Linked DNA regions of Homo sapiens: all the other regions are linked to region 2. The links come from fine-mapping of genetic effects on gene expression. A gene starts in region 2. Each other region holds a variant in brackets. All regions are shown on one strand. Distances are between the middles of the regions.

What was found. PIP is the estimated chance that this variant, and not a neighbour inherited with it, causes the effect.
Region 1: its variant is fine-mapped to the expression of MARCHF2 in hippocampus (GTEx, PIP 0.93).
Region 3: its variant is fine-mapped to the expression of MARCHF2 in anterior cingulate cortex (GTEx, PIP 0.98). The same link has a PIP of 0.9 or more in B cells, CD4 T cells, CD8 T cells, NK cells, monocytes and monocytes after LPS.
Region 4: its variant is fine-mapped to the expression of MARCHF2 in whole blood (TOPMed, PIP above 0.99).

Annotation. Positions count from the first base shown.
Region 1 is chr19:7,724,902-7,730,046 of GRCh38, forward strand. It overlaps CLEC4G (C-type lectin domain family 4 member G), which reads right to left. Exons shown (of 9, transcript NM_198492.4): 7 at 5,118-5,145; 8 at 4,920-5,035; 9 at 4,056-4,603. The coding sequence ends at 4,465. Among named protein-coding and RNA genes, the nearest start is that of CLEC4G, 4.6 kb to the right of the region's middle. The variant C/T (reference allele first, on the strand shown) is at 2,009.
Region 2 is chr19:8,410,754-8,415,898 of GRCh38, forward strand. MARCHF2 (membrane associated ring-CH-type finger 2) reads left to right here and starts at 2,552. Exons shown (of 5, transcript NM_001005415.2): 1 at 2,552-2,667. RefSeq lists enhancers at 1,012-1,306, 2,177-2,677 and silencers at 2,169-2,528, 2,559-2,718, 4,872-5,145.
Region 3 is chr19:8,435,355-8,440,499 of GRCh38, forward strand. It overlaps MARCHF2 (membrane associated ring-CH-type finger 2), which reads left to right. Exons shown (of 5, transcript NM_001005415.2): 5 at 3,034-3,663. The coding sequence ends at 3,192. Among named protein-coding and RNA genes, the nearest start is that of HNRNPM, 7.0 kb to the right of the region's middle. The variant G/C (reference allele first, on the strand shown) is at 3,107.
Region 4 is chr19:8,484,010-8,489,154 of GRCh38, forward strand. HNRNPM (heterogeneous nuclear ribonucleoprotein M) reads left to right here. Exons shown (of 16, transcript NM_005968.5): 14 at 1,594-2,396; 15 at 3,015-3,066; 16 at 4,682-5,105. The coding sequence ends at 4,845. Among named protein-coding and RNA genes, the nearest start is that of PRAM1, 16 kb to the right of the region's middle. RefSeq lists enhancers at 3,171-3,260, 3,551-3,600. The variant CTGAT/C (reference allele first, on the strand shown) is at 2,640.

The DNA of each region.
Region 1 (5,145 bases), 690 kb before region 2:
AGTCAATCTTTCCTGTGTAATGAGACCCCACTAAAAACTCCCGAGGCCTTGTGAGGTGGCTCATGCCTGTAATCCCAGCACTTTGGGAGGCCAAGGCAGGAGGATCACTTGAGCTCAGGAGCTCAAGACCAACCTGAACAATATGGTGAAACCCCGTCTCTACAAAAAATACAAACATTAGCTGGACAGGGTGGTGACATGTGCCTGTAGTTCCAGCTACTCGAGAGGCTGAGAGGTGGGAGGATCACTTGAGCCCAGAAGGTTGAGGCTGCAGTGAGCTATGATTATGCCACTGCACTCCAGCCTGGGCAACAGGGCAAGACCGGGTCTCAAAAAAAAAAAACAAACAAAACTGAAACACTGAAGGAGTAATTGGATCAATCCTGCCTACATACTGAAACCCCAAAAAAACTCAGGACACCGAGCTCTGGAGCTTCCTGGCTGGTGAACCCATCACCCTGAGAGTGGGGAAGGCATAGAGAGAGTGATGTGTGCTGACGTTATGGGGAAGGACACAGGAGCTCCGTGTTTGGGACCTTCCCAGACCTCACCCTATGTATCTTCTCATTTGGCAGGTCCTGATTTGTATTTTGTTAAGAAAACTGAAATCAGGGCCAGGCACAGTGGCTCATGCCTGTAATCCCAGCACTTTGGGAGGCCAAGGCGGGTGGATCACCAGATCAAAAGAGTGAGACTATCCTGGCTAACATGGTGAAACCCCATCTCTACTAAAAATATAAAAATTAGCCAGGCATGGTGGTGGCGGGCGCCTGTAGTCCCAGCTACTTGGGAGGCTGAGGCAGGAGAATTGCTTGAACCCGGGAGGCAGAGGTTGCAGTGAGCTGAGGTCGCACCGCTGCACTCCAGCCTGGGCGAAAGAGCGAGACACTGTCTCAAAAAACAAACAAAAAAACAAAACAAAACAAAGAACAAAACAAAACAAAAAACAAACTGAAATCGTAAGCATAGCATTTCCTAAGTTCTGGGAGTCATTCTAGTGAATTATGGAACCTGAAGGGGTCATGAGAATTTGTAGGCAGTTGATCAGAAATGTGGGTGGCTGGGGATCCCCAAACTTGTAGCTGGTATCTGAAATGAGAGCAGTCTTGATGGGGACTGTGTCCTTAACCTCTGGGTGGAGTCTGCACTATCTGGGTGAATAGTGGCAGAACTGCATTTAGAATTACAGGAGGCCAGGAGCAGTGGCTCATGCCTGTAATCCCAGTGCTTTGGGAGGCCAAGGTAGGCGAATCACTTGAGCTCAGGAGTTTGAGACCAGCCTGGGCAGCATAATGAGACCGCTTCTCTACAAAAAAATAAAAAAAATTAGCCAGGCATGGTGGCACACGCCTGTAGTCCCAGCTACTCAGGAGGTTGAGGCAGGAGGATTGTTTGAGCCTGGAGGATTGCTTGAACTTGAACCTGGGAAGTCAAGGCTGCCGTGAGCCATGTTCATGCTACCGCACTCCAGCCCAGGTGACAAAGCGAGATCCTGCCTCAAAAAGAAAATTAAAAAAAAAAAAAAAAAAAGGAACCACAGGAGATCATCCTGTACTATCAGGTCAGGCCCTAAATGCAATCCCAACTGTTCATATAAGAAGGAGGCAAGACCAGCCTGGGCAGCATAGTGACACCCCATCTCTACAAAAAAACTAACAAATAGCTGGGTGTGGTGGTGCATGCCTGTAGTCCCAGCTACTTGGGAGGCTGAGGCAGGAGGATTTCTTGAGCCCAGGAGGTTGAGGCTGCAGTGAACTATGATCGTGCTATTACACTCCAGCCTGGGTGACAGAGCAAGACCCTGTCTCAAAAAAAGGTGATTGTGGGGGCATTCCTAGAGAGATTTGATACAGAAGAAGTAATTGTCATGGCTGAAGCTAGATGCTACCCTACTGCCTTTGAAGATGGAAGAAGGGTCCAGGAGTCAAGAAGGATGAGGACAACAGCTCTAGAAAAGCTAAAGAAGAGGTAAAGAAACATTTTCCCTTTGATATGGTTTGGCTGTGTC[C/T]GCCTCCCCAAATCTCACCTTGAATTGTAATAATCCCTGTGGATCAAGGGTGGGGCCAGGTGGAGATAATTGAATCACGGGGGCAGTTTTCCCCATACTGTTCTTGTGGTGGTGTATGAGTCTCTCAAGATCTGATGGTTTTATTTTTTAATTTTTTAATTTTTTTTTTTGAGATGAACTCTTGCTCTGTCACCCAGGCTAGAGTGCAATGGCATGACCTTCGGCTCACTGCAACCTCTGCCTCCTGGGCTCAAGCAGTTCTCCTGCCTCAGCCTCCCGAGTAGCTGGGATTACAGGCGCCTGCCACCACGACCAGCTAATTTTTGTATTTTTAGTAGAGATGGGGTTTCACCATATTGGCCAGGCTGGTCTCTTGGCCAGGCTGGTCCCGAACTCCTGACCTCGTGATCCATCCGCCTTGGCCTCCCAAAGTGCTGGGATTACAAGCGTGAGCCACCATGCCCAGCCTCAAGATCTGATGGTTTTATAAATGAGAGTTCCCCTGCGCAAGTTATCTTGCCTGCCACCATGTAAGACATGCCTTTGCTCTTCCTTTCCTTTCTGCCATGATTGTGAGGCCTCCCCAGCCATGTGGAACTGCGAGTCCATTAAACCTCTTCCCTTTATAACTTACCCAGTATCAGGTATGTCTTTATTAGCAGCATGAGAACGGATTAATACATCCTTAGACCTTGGTTTTTGCCCAGCAAAATCCATTACAGTAGTGGTGGGAAACTCAAACACTCCTCCAAGCCAACTGTGTCTGGAAGTCCAGCAGCCTGGCCCTCAGTCCAGTAGGCAAGTCAATAGGCTCCTGGACTTGCCCAGTGCCTGCTCCAGACTGCAAGTTTAGAAAGATCAGAGGATAGGGGGGTTGACAGGTTACAGCAGTGGAAGAGTTCCACCTGGCCAGGGAATGTGATGGTGTTCCTTCTATTTCCTGCTCAGCTGATGCTGTTATACGGTCCAGCAGCCTGGGGGCTCCCAGCAGCCTGTAGTTCTAGACTCCGTTCTGCACAGAACTAAAAGCTGCCAACCTGTCACTCCCCTGTTGAACCTGTCTCCATGGGAAATTCTTGGAGAGCCCCTAACTCTCCGAGATGGAAGCAAGAAACTGGGAGTGTAGGGTGAATTCAGATCAAAAGTCCCTGGTTGAGAAACCCAGGTTCTATGTAACATATACTGCTGTGTGAATTCAGCAATCTGTATACCTTCCAACCTCCTAGTATTCCTTTTTTTTGAGATATGGTGTCACTGCATTGCCCAGAATGGAGAACAGTGACTATATCAACAGGCAAGATCATAGCTCACTGCCGTCTCAAACTCCTAGGCTTAAGCAATTCTCCCACCTCAGCCTCCCGAGTAACTGGGACTACGAGCTTGCACCACCACACCCACTCTCCAAGCCTTTTTCTTCCTGGACCTTCTGCTTCCAAAGTCCTACCTTCCCAGCTTCATCTACTCAAAATTCCATTGTCCCTTGGAAAATCCACCTTCTCTGGAATGTATTTCCTGACTGACCCATCCAATAGTCACAGACCCTAGATGCACTGAGCAGAAGGGACCTGCTCGTTCCATCAGGGTACCCTGTCCCCCACCTGCCTCAAGGGCCTGTCTCAGGATGCCCATAATCTCCACGAAGACGTGACAGTCTTCTCAAGGACTGCAGTATCTCAGGATGGTCCCTCTCCCCAAAGACAAAGGTGACCCTTCCAAATGCTTCAGGTGTCCTCTCCACACACTCATCCATTACATTACTGGTCATTTTGTTCCTGTACCCCGCTAGACCAGAATGCAGCGGTCCCAGGGGAAAGGACTGCGTCTGACCCATTTCTGTGTCCCCAGCACCCTCTGAGCCAAGCCCCATGCCAGGGACTGAGGAAGTAATGGTGTAGAGTGGGAAACTGCCCCTACCTTCAAGCCCTCCTGGCCCAGGGCAAGTTACCCACCAAAGGCCAAGAGGTCACTGAGAGAGTCCAGGGGTCACTCGTACGGATTAAACTAGGACATCCGGAATAAAGCACAGAAGATCTCGCCAGAGCCAGGATCCTGGATTCATTTCTCAAATATTTATTGATGCTTCCTCAGGCTGCAAAAACAGCTTCCAGTTTGGTGGAAAATGCGAGAAAACCAAACAGCTCCAGTCCTCAGTCACCTAACCTTGGTTAGGGAGAGAAGTGGAGGCATATCACGGGGACGCAGGAGCAGGGATTTTGGAGCTAGTGGAGGTTAGGTTGGGTCTGCGTGAGTGGAGTTAGGATGAGGTCGGCATGGAGGTCCCAGAGCCCAGGCACTGGGCTGGACAGGGCTATGTTGGGCCAAGTGTTTCTGAGACTCAGCAGCGGTGGATGAGGAAGAAAAAACTCTTTGGCAATCAGCTCCAGGAGCCAGGGAGGTGAGCAGCCCCCAGGATACGACATGCTGCAATGGGCGCGGCTCCAGGGCACTGGGCGGGGTCAGCAGTTGTGCCTTTTCTCACAGATCCAGCCGTCCTTCTCGCTGTCACACGGTGCGTCGTTCCACAGCCCCGTGTGCAGCATCATGACACAGTTCTCGCGCCCCCAAGCGTCATTGGGCTCTCCCTGGTTCCAGTGGCTACAGGGGGGTTGAGTGGGGGTGTTGCTGGGAATCTAGACAGAGGATGAACTCGGGGTCCCGCCTTCCTCTTCAGGCTCTAGCCTGTTTATTGCTTGGGTCTACTCTAGACACCCCAACTGTCTAACCTGAGTATACACCTGGTATATAACTTTTTAACGCCCAGAATTTAACCTGAGGACAGTTCCTGGGGTCCAGCCTGCCCATCCCTAAGTATGGAGCCCCAGCCGAGGGGTCCCTGAGATCTAGCCAAAGCATGTCCTCTAGAGCCTAACCTGTCTCCCTCCCCAGGTCTCACCAGGAGCCTTTCCCTCACCTGAAGCTGAGAGAGACTCCGTCCACCCACTGGTAGCCCTGAACCTTGCCCAGATGGCGCACAGCCCTCAGGCCCAGCCAGTAACCACGGCCACGCGTGTTCCGAGTGAGGAAGCCCTAGAAAGGAGGGGACATCTGAGCCTGCAGAGTCCGCCCCGCCCTGCCCCACCGCCTGACCACGCCCCCTCCCCCTGCGCACCTGCTCATCCAGGCCCCCAACGATCACC
Region 2 (5,145 bases):
ACATGGCGAAACCCCATCTCTACTAAAAATACACAAATTAGCTGGACGTGGTGGTGCGGGCCTGTAATCACAACTACTCAGGAGGCTGAGGCAGGAAAATCACTTGAACCGGTGGCGGAGGTTGCAGTGAGCAGAGAGGGCGCCACTGCACTCCAGTCTGGGCCACAGAATGAGACTCCATCGCCAAAAAAGAAAAAAAAAATTGGTCGGGCGTGGTGGCTCCTGCCTGTAATCCCAGCACTTTGGGAGGCGGAAGTGGGCAGATCACTTGAAGTCAGGCGTTTAAGACCAGCCTGACCAACATAGTGAAACCTGCCTCTACTAAAAACACAAAAATTAGCTGGGCGTGGTGGTGCGGGCCTGTAATCCCAGCTACTCGGGAGGTGAGCCAGGAGAATCCCTTGAACCTGGGAGGCAGAGGTTGCAGTGAGCTGAGACCACACCATTGCACTCCAGCCTGGGTGACAGAGTGAGACTCTGTCTCAAAAAAAAAAAAAAAAAATTAAAATTAAATAAAATATTAAAAACAACAACAACAACAAAACACCACAGTGTAACATACTAACCTCACACTGGAGAAACTGGCAGACACCATTTGAACCAAGTTAGCACAATCGATAGTGGACAAAATCAGCATTGTATGCATCCTGAAAACACAACGTCACATCTGTTTCCTGCCACAAATGCAAAATCATGAGAAAGTATTAGACAAATAGCAATGGAAGGACTTCCTGCAAAATTACTAGCCTGGAATTTTTGAAAAATATTGATGTCATGGAGAGAAGGTAAGATTGATAAAATGTTCCAGAAAGAGAGACTAAATTAGAGTCGTTAACAACAAAATACAATGCTTGATCCTGGGATGGATTTGGGATTTTTTGTTTTTTGACACAGGATCTTGCTCTGTTGCCCAGGCTGGAATGCAGTGGTGAGGTAATGGCTCACTGCAGCCCAGAACTCCTGGGCTCAATTGATCCTCTCACTTCAGCCTCCCAAGTAGCTGGGACCACAGGAGGATGCCACCACAACTGGCTAATATTTTTATTTTATTTTGTAGAGATGGGGTCTCACTGTGCTGCCCAGACTGATCTCAGACTCCTAGACCCAAGAGACCTTCCTGCCTTGGGCTCCCAAAGAGCTGGGATTGCAGACATGACTCACTGTGCCTGGCCTGGACTTTGGATTTTTAAAGGACTTTATTGGAAACTTTTCTTTTCTTTTTTTTGAGACAGAGTCTGGCTGTGTTGCCCAGGTTAGAGTGCAGTGGCAAGATCTCCGCTCACTGCAACCTCCACCTTGCAGATTCAAGCAATTCTCCTGCCTCAGCCTCCTGAGTAGCTGGAATTACAGGTGCCCACAACAAAACCCAGCTAATTATTTGTATTTTTAGTACAGACAGGGTTTCACCATGTTGGCCGGGCTGGTCTCGAACTCCTGACCTCAAATGATCCAAGTGCTGGGATTACAGGCATGAGTCACTGCACCTGGCCTTTGAATGGGCTCTGGGAATTACATGATAATATTAGATGAACATTAATTTTCTGATTTTGAAGGTTATACTGTGATTATGTGCAAAAGTGTGCTTATACTAAGTGAACATATAGTGCAGTATTTTTTTAAAAATTGATCTGTCTTAGAGATGGGGGTGGGTGAGTTTACTATGTTGCCCAGACTGGCCTCGAACTCCTGGGCTCAAGTGATCCTCTTGCCTCAGCCTCCAGAGCAGCTGGGACTACAGGCCTGGGCCACCACACTTGGCTAACTTTTATTTTATTTTATTTTATTATTTATTTATTTATGTATTTATTTGAGACAGAGTCTCACTCTGTCACCCAGGCTGGAGTGCAGTGGCGCGATGTCGGCTCACTGCAAGCTCTGCCTCCCGGGTTCACGCCATTCCTCTGCCTCAGCCTCCCGAGTAGCTGGGACTACAGGCGCCCGCCACCACGCCCGGCTAATTTTTTTGTATTTTTAGTAGAGACGGGGTTTCACCGTGTTAGCCAGGATGGTCTCGATCTCCTGACCTCGTGATCCGCCCGCCTCGGCTTCCCAAAGTGCTAGGATTACAGGCGTGAGCCACCGCGCCCATCCTTTTAAATTTTTTGTAGAGACGGGAACTCACCATGTTGCCCAGGCTGGTCCCCAACATCTGGCCTCAAGCGATCCTTCCGTCTCGGCCTCCCAAAGTGCTCCGATTACAGGCATGAGCCACTGCACCCGGCCAGTCTCAAAAAAAAAAAAGTTAAATTCTGCAGAGGTTTTATTTATTAGAGGACGCTGGCCGTCTGCAGGTGGCGCAGCAGCACCCCCTCGTGCCTGGGGCGGGGCTGGGGCGGGGCCAGTGCTGGGGCGGAGCCGGAGCTGGGGGCGGAGCCAAGACGCGGCAGGGGCGGAGCCAGCAGCTGCGGCACAGCGGGGCCTGTGCGGCCCAAGTCGTCCCTGTGGCCTCCGGCCCCGCCTCTTAGGGCGGGACGTGCAAGGCGATTGGCGAATGCAGGCGAGAGGCGGTCGCTATTGGTCCGCGGCGCTGTCGGCTCGGCGGGCGGTGCCCGGACGCAGGTGCCGGCCGGAGCGGAGCTAGTGGCGCCGACGGGCCGGGCCGGGCCGGGACCGGGGCCGAGGCGAACCGAGGGGCCTGTGCGGCCGCCCGGCCCGGCCGCGGATCAGGTAGGCACGGGCCTGCAGGTAGGGCCGGAGGACGCCAGTCCGCGGGCCGGCCCCGGGTTCGAGGCCGGAGCTCGGCACCCGGGCGGGACGGCTGGGCTCGATCCCTTGGCCACAGCCTTCTCGGGGACGCGGGGACCTCAGTTCCCGTGTCAAGGCCGGTGGGAGGTCTCCGGGGTCCGGCACACATAGGCGCCTCTCCGAGCCTCGGTTTCCCCACCTGTGAAACTGGGTCATCCCATTGCCAACCTGATGGGGCTTCTGGGAGGATTCAGGAGGTGGCTGGTGCAGAAAACGCCTGACACACAGTAGGCAACTGCTAAGTGGCCAATGCCCTTCCCCAACCTCCTTCTCAGAGCGGCTCTGCCTGCAAAATAGTAAGTTATAATATAATGACCCAGCCACTTTGCACAAAGATGCTGAAACAGGATGCCCTGTGCTATGTGGGTGCTCAAAACGGGGTAGTCAAATGGGCATGTTGAGCTCATTCAGTTCTTTTGAAACCATACTGAGTAGGTGGAAGCAGTAGAAATGTCCCCTGTTATACAGTTGAGAGAGTCCAGGCTCAAAGAGGTTAAGTGTCTTGCCCAGGGCCACACAGCACATAAGGAGTAGAGCTGGGATTGGAACCTTGCTTCTCATGCAGGGAGGAATGAATGCAATAACAACCTCCACATTTACCCTAAAAAATATTAATAGAGCTTTTATTGAGCACTTACTGTGTGTGCCAGGGTTGACTGTGTGACCTCTCATCAACAACTCTGTAAGCTGATGATAGTAATTATAATAAGAGCTAATAGTTATTAACTTCTTAATTTTTTACTAATTTATGAACTACATATCATTATGACTCCCCGTCTTTTTTTTTTTTAGACAGAGTCTCTCTCTCTTGCCCAGGCTGGAATGCAGTGGCACGATCTGAGCTCATTGCAACCTCTGCCTCCCAGATTCAAGCGATTCCTACCTCACCCTGGTCAAGTAGTTGGGATTACAGGCCCCCGCCACCGTGCCTGGCCAATTTTTGTCTTTTTAGCAGAAACGGGGTTTCACCATGTTGACCAGGCTGGTCTCGAACTCCTGGCCTCAAGTGATCCACCTTCCTTGAACTCCCAAAGTGCACAAAGTGCTGGGATTACAGGCGTGAGCCACTGCGCCCGGCCTGTAACACTCATTTTAGAGATGATAATACTGAGGCTGAGAGAGTAAAACAGCTGCCTGAGACCACAATGTAGGGAGTTTTAGGGCCCTCTGATTCCTCTGCCCTCTGTTTCCTACCTTCAGGAAAAGGAGCCTGGGCAGGTATGGAAAAGACTGGGGGGCCTCAGTGCCACCCTAAACAAGCCTAGCTAAGGGTGAGCTTTACTGGATGAATTCAGCCTGGAGGCTCCTTCTCAGGAGACCCCTCCACGGACAGAGTCCACCAGCTCCATCATTAGAATGAGGCCCAGAGAAGCAAAGTGACTTGAACCAGGACACCCAGCATCGGTGGCATAGCCAGGAGGGCCAGGAGTTAAAGAACCCAGGTCTCTTGAGGTCCAGAACCACTCCCTGGACTGTTTTAAGTTCAAATTCTGACACCACCCCTTCCTAGCTATATGACCTTGGGAAAGTAGGTGCCTCTCTCCGAGCTTCAGCCTCTTTCCCCATCATAGGGTGTAATTATTGGTTTGTTGTGAAGACTCAATGAGATCTATCTCCAGGCCGGGCGTGGTGGCTCATGCCTGTAATCCCAACACTTTGAGAGGCCAAGGCGGGCAGATCACTAGGCCAGGAGTTCAGGACCAGCCTGGGCAACTTGGCAAAACACCATTTCTACAAAAAAATACAAAAATTAGCTGGATGTGGTGGTGTGCAGAGCTACTCAGGAGGCTGAGGTGGGAGGATCACCTGAACCTGGGGGCGGTGGAAGCTTCAGTGAGCTGTGATTACTACACTGCCCTCCAGCCTTTTGGGTGACAGATTGAGACCCTGCCTCAAAAGAAAAAAAAAAAAAAACAGACAAAAGAAAGAAAAGAAATAGGCCAGGCGCGGTGACTCATGCCTGTAATCCCAGCACTTTGGGAAGCCAAGGCGGGTGGATCACCTGAGATAAGGAGTTTGAGACCATCCTGGCCAACATGGTGAAACCCCGTCTCTACTAAAAATACAAATAATTAGCCAGCTGTGGGTGGAGGGCACCGGTAATCCCAGCTACTCTGGTGGTTGAGGCAGGAGAATCGCTTGAACCTGGGAGGCGGAGGTTGCAGAGAACCGAGGTGGTGCCATTGCTCTCCACCCTGGGCAACAAGAGTGAAACTCCATCTCAAAAAAAAAAAAACAAAAAAAACAAAAAAAAAAACCAGACAAAAGAAAGAAGAGAAATAAATCTCCTGGGCACTGGGCCAAGTTTGCTGGAGCCATCAGATCACTCTCCCATTTCAGCAGCCTCAGAGCTGAGTCCGACTTGCAGTCACCCTCTCTTTGTGTCCAGCCTCAAGTTTG
Region 3 (5,145 bases), 25 kb after region 2:
TTTTAGGTTCACAGCAAAATTTAGCAGAAAGTACAGAGAGTTCCTGTATATCACCCTGCTCCATACGCACACAACTTGCACAGCCTCCCCCACTATTAACATCGTTTACCCAAGCAGTGCATTTGTTACAATCAGTGAACCTTCATTATCCCTTTAAAGCCATAGTTCACATTAGGATTCACTTCTTTTGTTTGTTTGTTTTGAGATGGTATCTCGCCCTGTCTCTCAGACTGGAGTGCAGTGGTGTGATCTCCGCTCACTGCAACCTCTACCTCCTGGGCTCAAGCGATCCTCCCACCTCGGCCCTCCCAAGTAACTAGGACCATAGGTGCCCACTACCACACCTGGCTAGTTTTTGTATTTTTTGTAGAGACAGTGTTTTGCTATGTTGTTGTATCTGGTCTTAAACTCCTGGGCTCAAACCTTGGCTTCCCAGAGTGCTGGGATTATAGGTGTGAGCCACTGCACCTGGCCTGTGTGTGTGTGTGTGTGTGTGTGTGTGTGTGTGTGTGGCGGGGAGGGGATAGGATTGTTCTTTGTCACCCAGGCTGCAGTGCAGTGTGGCGTGATCATGGCTCACTGCAGCCTCAACCTCCCAGGCTCAATTGATCCTCCCACCTCAGCTTCCTGAGTAGCTAGTATTACAGATGTGTGCACCACGCCTGGCTAATTTTTGTATTTTTTTGGTGGAGACCGGGTTTTGCCATGTTGCCCAGGCTAGGAGTTGACTCTTGCTGTTGGACATTTATAAGTTTTGATGAATGTATAATGACATGTATTCACTATTTTTTTTTTTGGGGGGGACAGAGTCTCACTGTGTGCCAGGCTGGAGTGCAGTGGTGCGATCTTGGCTCACTGCAACTTCCGCCTCCTGGGTTCAAGCGATTCTCCTGCCTCAGCCTCCCGAGTAGCTGGGACTACAGGCCTGTGCCACCACGCCCAGCTAATTTTTGTATTCTTATTGGAGATGGGGTTTCACCATGTTGGCCAGGATGGTCTCGATCTCTTGACCTCGTGATCTGCCCACCTTGGCCTCCCAAAGGGCTAGGATTACAGGTGTGAGCCACTGCACCCAGCCATATTCACCATTATAATATCAGACAGAGTAGTTTCGTTGCCCTAAAAGTCCTCTGTGCTCTCTCTATTCATGCCACCCTCCTTTTCCCCAAGCCCTATCCACTGCTGATCTTTTTACTGTCTCCATGGTTTAGCCTTTTCCAGAATGTCCTATAGTTGGAGTCATTCAGTATGCAGCATCTTCAGGTTGGTTTATTTCATTTGGTGATAAGCATTTAAGGTTATTTTCGTGGCTTAAGGGCTTTCTTTTTTTTTTTTTTTTTTTTTTTGAGGCAGAGTCTCGCTCTTTCACCCAGGCTGGAGTGAAGTGGAGCGATCTCGGCTTACCGCAGCCTCCGCACCCCTCCCCCACAGGTTCAAGCGATTCTCTTGCCTCAGCCTCCTGAGTAGCTGGAATTACAGGCACCCGCCACCATGCCTGGCTAATTTTGTATTTTTAATAGAGATGGGATTTCTCCATGTTGGTCAGGCTGGTCTCAAACTCTGGACCTCAGGTGATCCACCCACCTTGGCCTCCCAAAGTGCTGGGATTACAGGTTTGAGCCACTGCGCCCAGCATTTTTTTTTTTTTTTTTGAGACAGGATCTCACTCTGTTGGATTGCAGTGGCGTGAGCACAGCTTGCTGCAGCGTCAACCTCCAGGGCTCAAATGATTCTCCTACCCCAGCCTCCTAAGTAGCTGGGACCACAGGCCTGGGCCACCACACCTGGCTAATTTTTAAATATTTGGTAGAGACAAGGTCTCGCTATGTTGCCTAGGCTGGCCTTCGACTCCTGAGCTCAAGTGGTCCCCACGCCTCGACCTCCTAAAGTGCTGGGATTACAGGCATGAGCCACCTTACCCAGCTTCGTTTCTTTTTAGCACTGAATAAGATCTCATTATCTGGAAGCACCACTGTTTATTTATTCATTCACCTATTTTTTTTTTTTTTTTTTTTGAGACGGAGTCTCGCTCTGTCGCCCAGGCTGGAGTGCCGTGGTGCGATCTCGGCTCACTGCAAGCTCTGCCTCCCAGGTTCACACCATTCTCCTGCCTCAGCGTCCCGAGTAGCTGGGATTACAGGCGCCCACCACCACGGCCGGCTAATTTTTTGTATTTTCAGTAGAGATGGCGTTTCACCGTGTTAGCCAGGATGGTCTCGATCTCCTGACCTCATGATCCACCTGCCTTGGCCTCCCAAAGTGCTGGGATTACAGGCGTGAGCCACCACGCCTGGCCTCATTCACCTATTGAGTGACTTTTTTTTTTTTAAACTTTTTTTTTTTGTTTGCACGTTCTGGTTGCACGTTTTGGCAATTATGTGACTGATTTACATTAAAAAAATTTTTTTGAGACAGGGTCTCACTCTGTCGCCCAGGCTGGAGTGCAGTGGCGTGATTTCGGCTCACTGCGGCCCATATCTCCCAGGCTCAGGCGATTCTCCTGCCTCAGCCTCCCAAGTAGCTGGGACTACAGGTCCGTGCCACCACGCCAGGCTAATTTTTGTATTTTTAGTAGAGACGGGGTTTTTAGTAGAGACAGGGTTTCTCCATGTTGCCCAGGCTGATCTTGAACTCCTGAGCTCAAGTGATCTTCCCCCGTGCCCGGGCTCCCAAACTACTGGGATTACAGGTGTGAGCCACCTCGCCCGGCCTGATTGATTGACATTTAATGCCTTCCAAGAGGCTGTTTCACTCCTTTCCCACTGAGAGGCAGGAAAGGAGCTCCCGTTTGCTTCCTGCTGGTGTGTGTGGGGTGTATCTTGTCTTTGCAGGACTCTGGAAGCTGGTGGGTGTCACCAGGAGTGTGAATGGGTCTGTGTGTGTGCACTTTGTGGGAGGAATGTTCATAAGCCAGCTCTGCTTCTGGAAGCATGAGCCCCAGCCATGGTTTGGGCCAACGCAGGTGCCACCACGGCGACTTGTTTTCCTCCCTTGCGGGTGGAGGCCTCCGCTCACTGCAGGGCTGCCCCACAGGTCTCCTTCCGCTACCACTGCCAGCTGTACTCCGAGTGGAGAAAGACCAACCAGAAAGTTCGCCTGAAGATCC[G/C]GGAGGCGGACAGCCCCGAGGGCCCCCAGCATTCTCCACTGGCAGCTGGACTCCTGAAGAAGGTGGCAGAGGAGACACCAGTATGAATGCTGGGCTCTCCGGACCCTGCAGCAGAGAGGCCAGAGGTAGCTGGTGATACCCTGTCCTGTGGAAGGACTTCCACTTCAACACTTCCACTTCAACAGTTCCCGCACGGCCTGAACGCTTCTTAGGCCAAGAGACACCATGCAGAGCCTAGTCTGTGATCCTGTGTGAAGATATTTTCAGGGTTTTTTTTTTTTTTTTTTTGCATATGGAGGACAGGTGGACATGGTCCTGAGCTCTGGACGGAGCAGGCACCCTGATCTCATTCTGAGGTCCACATGGCACCTTCTGGGCCAGCAGCTGTGGCCGGTGTATCAAGGGCGCCCTTAAAGCTGGAACATTCCAGCAAGCTTCTTGCGCTTCTCTGCACCCGGCAGGCCCACTTTCCTGGCACCCTCGACTTTATATAAAAGTTGCACTGCGTTTCAAAAACCCACCCCTGAATGAATAAAAGGAGCCCTGGCTGGACAAAATGGACTTGTCAGTTATGTTTCTCAAAGGAGGCCTCCCAGGGAGGGACCACATGGAGGTAAAAAAATAACACTGGCGGCCAGCCAGGTGTAGTGACTCACTCCTGTAATCCCAGCACTTTGGGAGGCTGAGGTGGGTGGATCACAAGGTCAAGAGATCGAGACCATCCTGGCTAACATGGTGAAACCCTGTCTCTACTAAAAATATAAAAATTACTTGGGCATGGTGGTGCGCGCCGGTAATCCCAGGTGCTACACAGGAAGCTGATGCAGGAGAATCGCTTGCACCTGGGAGGTGGAGGTTGCAGTGAGCTGAGATGGCGTCACTGCACTCCAACCTGGCGACAGAGAGAGACTCCATCTCCAAAACAAAACAAAACAAAACAACAACAAAAAACACTGGTTGGCCAGGCACAGTGGCTCATGCATGGAATTCCAGCACTTTGGGAGGCTGAGGTGGGCGGATCACAAGGTCAGGAGTTCGAGACCAGCCTAGCCAATATGGTTAAATCTCGTCTCTACTAAAAATACAACATGAGCCAGGCGTGGTGGCAGATACCTGTAGTCCCAGCTACTCGGGAGGCTGAGGCAGGAGAATCGCTTGAACCCGGGAGGCAGGGGTTGCCGTGAGCCAAGATCGCACCATTGCACTCTAGCCTGGGTGAGACAGCGAGACTCTGTCTCAAAAAAAATAAAATAAAATAAAAAACAATAAAAACCACTGGCTTGTTTTGAGGGATCTGTTCTGAAGCCCATGGGAAGAAGCAAAGGCTCAGTCTTCAAGTAAAAATCAGGTAGCAGGGTTATAAAAATGATTTTTAAAATATACATACGGGCTGGGCATGGTGGCTCATGCCTGTAATCACACTTTGAGAGGCCGAGATGGGTGGATCACCTGAGGTCAGGAGTTCGAGACCAGCCTGGCCAACATGGTGAAACCCCATCTCTACTAAAAATACAAAAATTAGCTGGGCGTGGAGACGCACACCTGTAATCCCAGCTACTCGGGAGGCTGAGGCAGGAGAATGGCTTGAACCTGGGAGACAGAGGTTGCAGTTAGCTGAGATCAGTTGCACCACTGCATTTCAGACTGGGTGACATCGTGAAACTCTGTCTCAAAAAATAAAAAATAGAAAAATAAAATAGACATAAGAACAATTTCCTCTTACTTTGCATCTGCCAGTCCACAGACCATGCTGGCCTCTGTTTTTCTTTTTTTGAGATGGGGTCTTGCTCTGTCACCCAGATTGGAGTGCAGAGGCACAATCACACAGCTCACTCCAGCCTCGACCTCCTGGGCTCAGGCAATCCTGTCTCAGCCTCCCTGGCAGCTGGGACAACAGGCATGCACCACTGCGCCTAGCCACTGTTAGTTTTTAGTTAAGTGTAGAGAGTCCAGCATGGGCCAGGCCTGGTGGCTGATGCCTGTAATCCCAGCATTTTGGGAGGCTTCGGCAGGAGGATCAGTTGAGCCTAGGAGTTTGA
Region 4 (5,145 bases), 73 kb after region 2:
TGCATACCTCCAGAGTGCTGGGATGACAGATGTGAGCCACCACACCTGGCCCAAATGTACTTTTTCAGCCTGATTTTCCCTCTGAGTATCTTGGCATCTCACCTCCTGACTTCTGTGTTGGGCTGGCTCTGGAGCTCCACGCTGGTACCATTTCCTCCCATTTCTTTTTTTTTTTTTTTTTTTGAGAGACGGAGTCTCACTCTGTCGCCCAGGCTAGAGTGCAGTGGCACGATCTCGGCTCACTGTGACCTCCGTCTCCTGGGTTCAAGCGATTCTCCTGCCTCAGCCTCCCAAGTAGCTGGGACTACGGGCGCACGCCACCATACCCAGCTAATTTTTGCAATTTTAGTAGAGATGGGGTTTCACCATGTTGGCCAGGCTGGTCGCGAACTCCTGACCTTGTTCCGCCCGCCTTGGCCTCCCAAAGTACTGGGATTACAGGCATGAGCCACCACACCCAGCTGCCCCACCTCATTTCTGATGCCTTTGGGCAAAGTGCCCATTCTCGCTAGGTTCCTTATACTGTGGGGAAGTTCTGAGACGTCTCCCCTCTGAAAGTCACACATTCTTAGAGTCGGGCCTGCTTTGGCCGCTCACTGTGTGCTGTGCAGCTAGAGAAGCAGGCGCGGTGTGGCCAGTTACAGAGCCAGTTAGAGAAACTGCCCAGTTTCCTCTTGAATTGGTATCTTTGACTAGGCTGCTTGGGTCGGTCACAGGCTGGCTCTGGGCTGATGGCCACTCTCAGAGGCAAGCGACAGGGTTTCGGGGAGGAGCCCCAAACTCGGCATGTGGAAAGGGGTGGCCTTGCTGACGGAGCCAGACCCTGCTTTCCAGAGTTGCAAGCACCACGGGTGGGGGCGTCCCTTCGTTCTGCTGACTGACCCCCAGCCGCTACCAGAGCCCACTCTGCAGTGCCATCAACATCTTCTTTCCAAAGCCAGCAAGTCATTTGGTTTCCCTGACAATAGGGTCCCCAAAAGTGGCCAGCTGTGTGCATTTGTACACAGAGGATCTCTCGGTGTGTGTTTTTTTGACCTCTGCTTGATGGTGTGGCCGAAAATCCTTTCTCTGTGCCCTGGGAGCGCTGAGGAAATGCAGCCAGAGTGGCCCCCAGCAGAGCATCCTAGAGGGACAGGCTGGGAGGGGAAGGTGGGAGTGACTCCGACTTGTCTCCACATAACTCCTGTTCATTACCCTGGGTGGCCCCCCGAGTGGGGGGTGTCCATGCCTCCCCCTGGAGCATTTCTCAGTGTCTGCTGATGGAGAAACCTCAGATGTCTCAGGAATTGACGTCCATGGTTCACAAAGCTTGTCACAGACACTAGCACCTCACAGACACACATACAGGGGTGTTCTTTAGAAGTTGTGTTATGGAAATCTCAGCTGTGGCATAGAGCAGAGAGAATGCTGGGAGGCCCCCATGTGCCCACCACACAGCTGTAGCTGTTGTCAACATTTGAGGGGTGTCTTAATGGTAAATTATGGTGGGCCTTTACCCCTGATCCATGCCCATGAGCTGAAGTGGTCTGGCGTGTTGTGCACACGCACACTCAAGTTCTTGACACCCACCTGTGTTTTGTGTCCCTGTTTCAGGTGGAGGTGGAGGAAGCGTCCCTGGGATCGAGAGGATGGGTCCTGGCATTGACCGCCTCGGGGGTGCCGGCATGGAGCGCATGGGCGCGGGCCTGGGCCACGGCATGGATCGCGTGGGCTCCGAGATCGAGCGCATGGGCCTGGTCATGGACCGCATGGGCTCCGTGGAGCGCATGGGCTCCGGCATTGAGCGCATGGGCCCGCTGGGCCTCGACCACATGGCCTCCAGCATTGAGCGCATGGGCCAGACCATGGAGCGCATTGGCTCTGGCGTGGAGCGCATGGGTGCCGGCATGGGCTTCGGCCTTGAGCGCATGGCCGCTCCCATCGACCGTGTGGGCCAGACCATTGAGCGCATGGGCTCTGGCGTGGAGCGCATGGGCCCTGCCATCGAGCGCATGGGCCTGAGCATGGAGCGCATGGTGCCCGCAGGTATGGGAGCTGGCCTGGAGCGCATGGGCCCCGTGATGGATCGCATGGCCACCGGCCTGGAGCGCATGGGCGCCAACAATCTGGAGCGGATGGGCCTGGAGCGCATGGGCGCCAACAGCCTCGAGCGCATGGGCCTGGAGCGCATGGGTGCCAACAGCCTCGAGCGCATGGGCCCTGCCATGGGCCCGGCCCTGGGCGCTGGCATTGAGCGCATGGGCCTGGCCATGGGTGGCGGTGGCGGTGCCAGCTTTGACCGTGCCATCGAGATGGAGCGTGGCAACTTCGGAGGAAGCTTCGCAGGTTCCTTTGGTGGAGCTGGAGGCCATGCTCCTGGGGTGGCCAGGAAGGCCTGCCAGATATTTGTGAGAAATGTAAGTGGCTCTTGGGGAACTTCTTGGTGGTGGTGAGCATGAGGGGACAGGGGAGGCAAAGATCAGCAGGATGAAGTCAGAGGTGGCGCCCTTCAAAGGGGACCACACCTCCTTGCCACTGTCCCAAACGTTTTATGCTAGTGGGACAAGTAAGGAATGTGAGAACTGTGGGTTCTGGAAGAGCCTGGGCTTCTCCACTGTGCTAGAATATGGAGCAGACGCTGAGCTCAGAGACTCCAGTTT[CTGAT/C]TGGTTGGCTTGAAGAGGCACTATGTGTTGCACGATGGTCCAGGGAAAGAAGTGGCTGTAACGGAATTATTTTCCCCAGCTCAGCCACCCTTAGCCACTATTTAGTGACTGTGGGCTGCGCACCGCAGGCCTGAGTGTCCCATCCTGCACGGTGCTCCCACAGGCAGAGCCCCAGGGAGGGAGCTGGCTGTGCCGCTTCACAGCCTTGTCCCACATGTATCTATTAGTTTCCTGCTGATCGCCTCAGTCTGAAGGGCAGCCAGCTTCTCGGTATAGTGAGAAATCTAGCATGGCCCTCAGAGCCAGCTGCAAGGCATGCCTTAGGATTTGGTTTAATCACGCATCAGTCTCCCTTTTCTTCTCCCCTTCAGCTGCCATTCGATTTCACATGGAAGATGCTAAAGGACAAATTCAACGAGTGCGGTAAGTGTTGGGAACGGCTTTGTAGGTGCTTCCCTCGTGCTTGTTGGTGACGCAGCCGAGTCAGCAGCAAAACCTCCCTCCCAGCCCCCTCCGTCGGCTCAGGACCCATGGCCTTGCCATGTTCTGCCCACGCCAATGCTCAGGCAGGTTGTTGAGTGTCCTGTGATGTGTCACATGTTTTTCAGCTGTGTTCTCATTTCATCCTTACTTCCTTTTTTCTTTTTGAGTCTTTGAAACAAGGTAGTAGTGTCCCCATTTCACAGATGAGTCAGGCAGAGTCTTCCTTCTGAGGTTACCTGGCTTCTAGGTGGCAAGGCTAAATAAATACATCCCAGACGAGGTCGCTTTCCCCTCAGCACAGCTGGTGTGGGGCCTCGGAGAGAACACAGCCCAGCAGGTGCCATGGGGAGGCGGTGCAGGCTCTGGGCACACAGCAGCTCCTGTGAGGGTGAGGCTAAGGTCTTGTGGTTTCCTGGCACATCGGGCAACTCTTCTGGAGGGCTCTGTCTGTGGCTGAAAGCAAGTTGTCTTCCTTCCCTGCCCTCCAGGGTGAGCCCCCACCCCGCATGCACCACCTCTGTTCTTTTTAGCTAGAGGGGCCTGAGCTAGAGGTCTGGGCAGCTGCTTCCGCACTGTCCTCCCGCTTCCTGTTTCAGCAGTGGCTCCGATTTCACCACCATTGCTGCTTCTCCATGGTTCTTGGGGCAAGCCGTTGAGTCATGATCTGCCTCTTTGCTCCATTCTTCACCTCTTTCCCCACTCCTGAGTTCCCATGTTGTAGCTAGATATTCTGAAAAGGCCAGTGGGATCACAGCGCCCCCAGCCCCCACTTTTGCAATGCCTGGAGCGGCCCTGTGCCTTCAAGAGGAAGTCCAGACTCACAAGCCCCTTGAAGACCTGGTCCTATCCTCCTCCATCTCCCTCCTGTCCCAGAACCTGAGCGGCAAGTGCTGCACGTGTCCCGCAATGCTCTCGTGTGAGCCAATTACTGGCAAGTCTTCTTTCTGGTGAATTTCTGTGTAAGCTCACTCAGAACTTGCCCCTGAGGACCCCTCCACCCTACCTGCCCTGGGCCCTCTCTTAGGCACTGAGTTCCCACCTCTGGCATTGTGGCCCTACCACCTTTGGTACTCCTGGAGTAGAGCCTTTGCCCTCTAGGGCTCTGTCCACGGCGTTGACACATATCTGGATGCTTAACGGGTGCTCAAATGAATAAGTGAAACCTGCTGGCTTTCATTTGGACAGTACAGACGTGTCCATTGGATTGCGGATGGCTTTGTAACCAGGGGCGGTGGCATATCAAAAATGAAGACTTTGTAAAATGTATGGGAACTTTCTGCCTATAAAGCTGGCTTTACACTGCGCCTTCTTTTTTGAACTTCCTGAAGCGTAAAGGCGTGCATTGAATCCGCCAGGAAGGCTTTTCATGGGGCAGGGGCAGGCTCTGTTAGCAGAAGAATGGCAGTGTGGCTGAGGGGGCCGTAGTCATTGGTTCTCGCCATTGTATTCTGAGCCTTTGTGCTCTAGGCTTCAGGGCCTCTCCTTTTTGACTCTGTCCACCAAAATCTAACAAAATCGGGACTGAGTGTCGTCTCTTCTTCCCTCCCTGTCCTAGGCCACGTGCTGTACGCCGACATCAAGATGGAGAATGGGAAGTCCAAGGGGTGTGGCGTGGTTAAGTTCGAGTCGCCAGAGGTGGCCGAGAGAGCCTGCCGGATGATGAATGGCATGAAGCTGAGTGGCCGAGAGATTGACGTTCGAATTGATAGAAACGCTTAAGCAGTTGCCTTTTTTAAACATCGATACGAGACCTCTGAATTTGTATTTTTTCTTGTTAACCATTTTAATTTGTTGGCTGGATGTATAAAGATGTTTAAAAAATTCAGTTGCTTTTTGGGGTAATTTGAATTACTTTTTTAATGACTGGGGTTCCATTTGACTGTTTGCATTGAGATTGCAATGTGCGCAATTTTTTTTGTAGTTGTGGCATCTTGTTGACATCGAATATGACTTTGATAATAAATACCGGTTCCTGAAAACGGCCTGCTTGTGTGTGCTGTGTGGGCAACCACGCGAGGT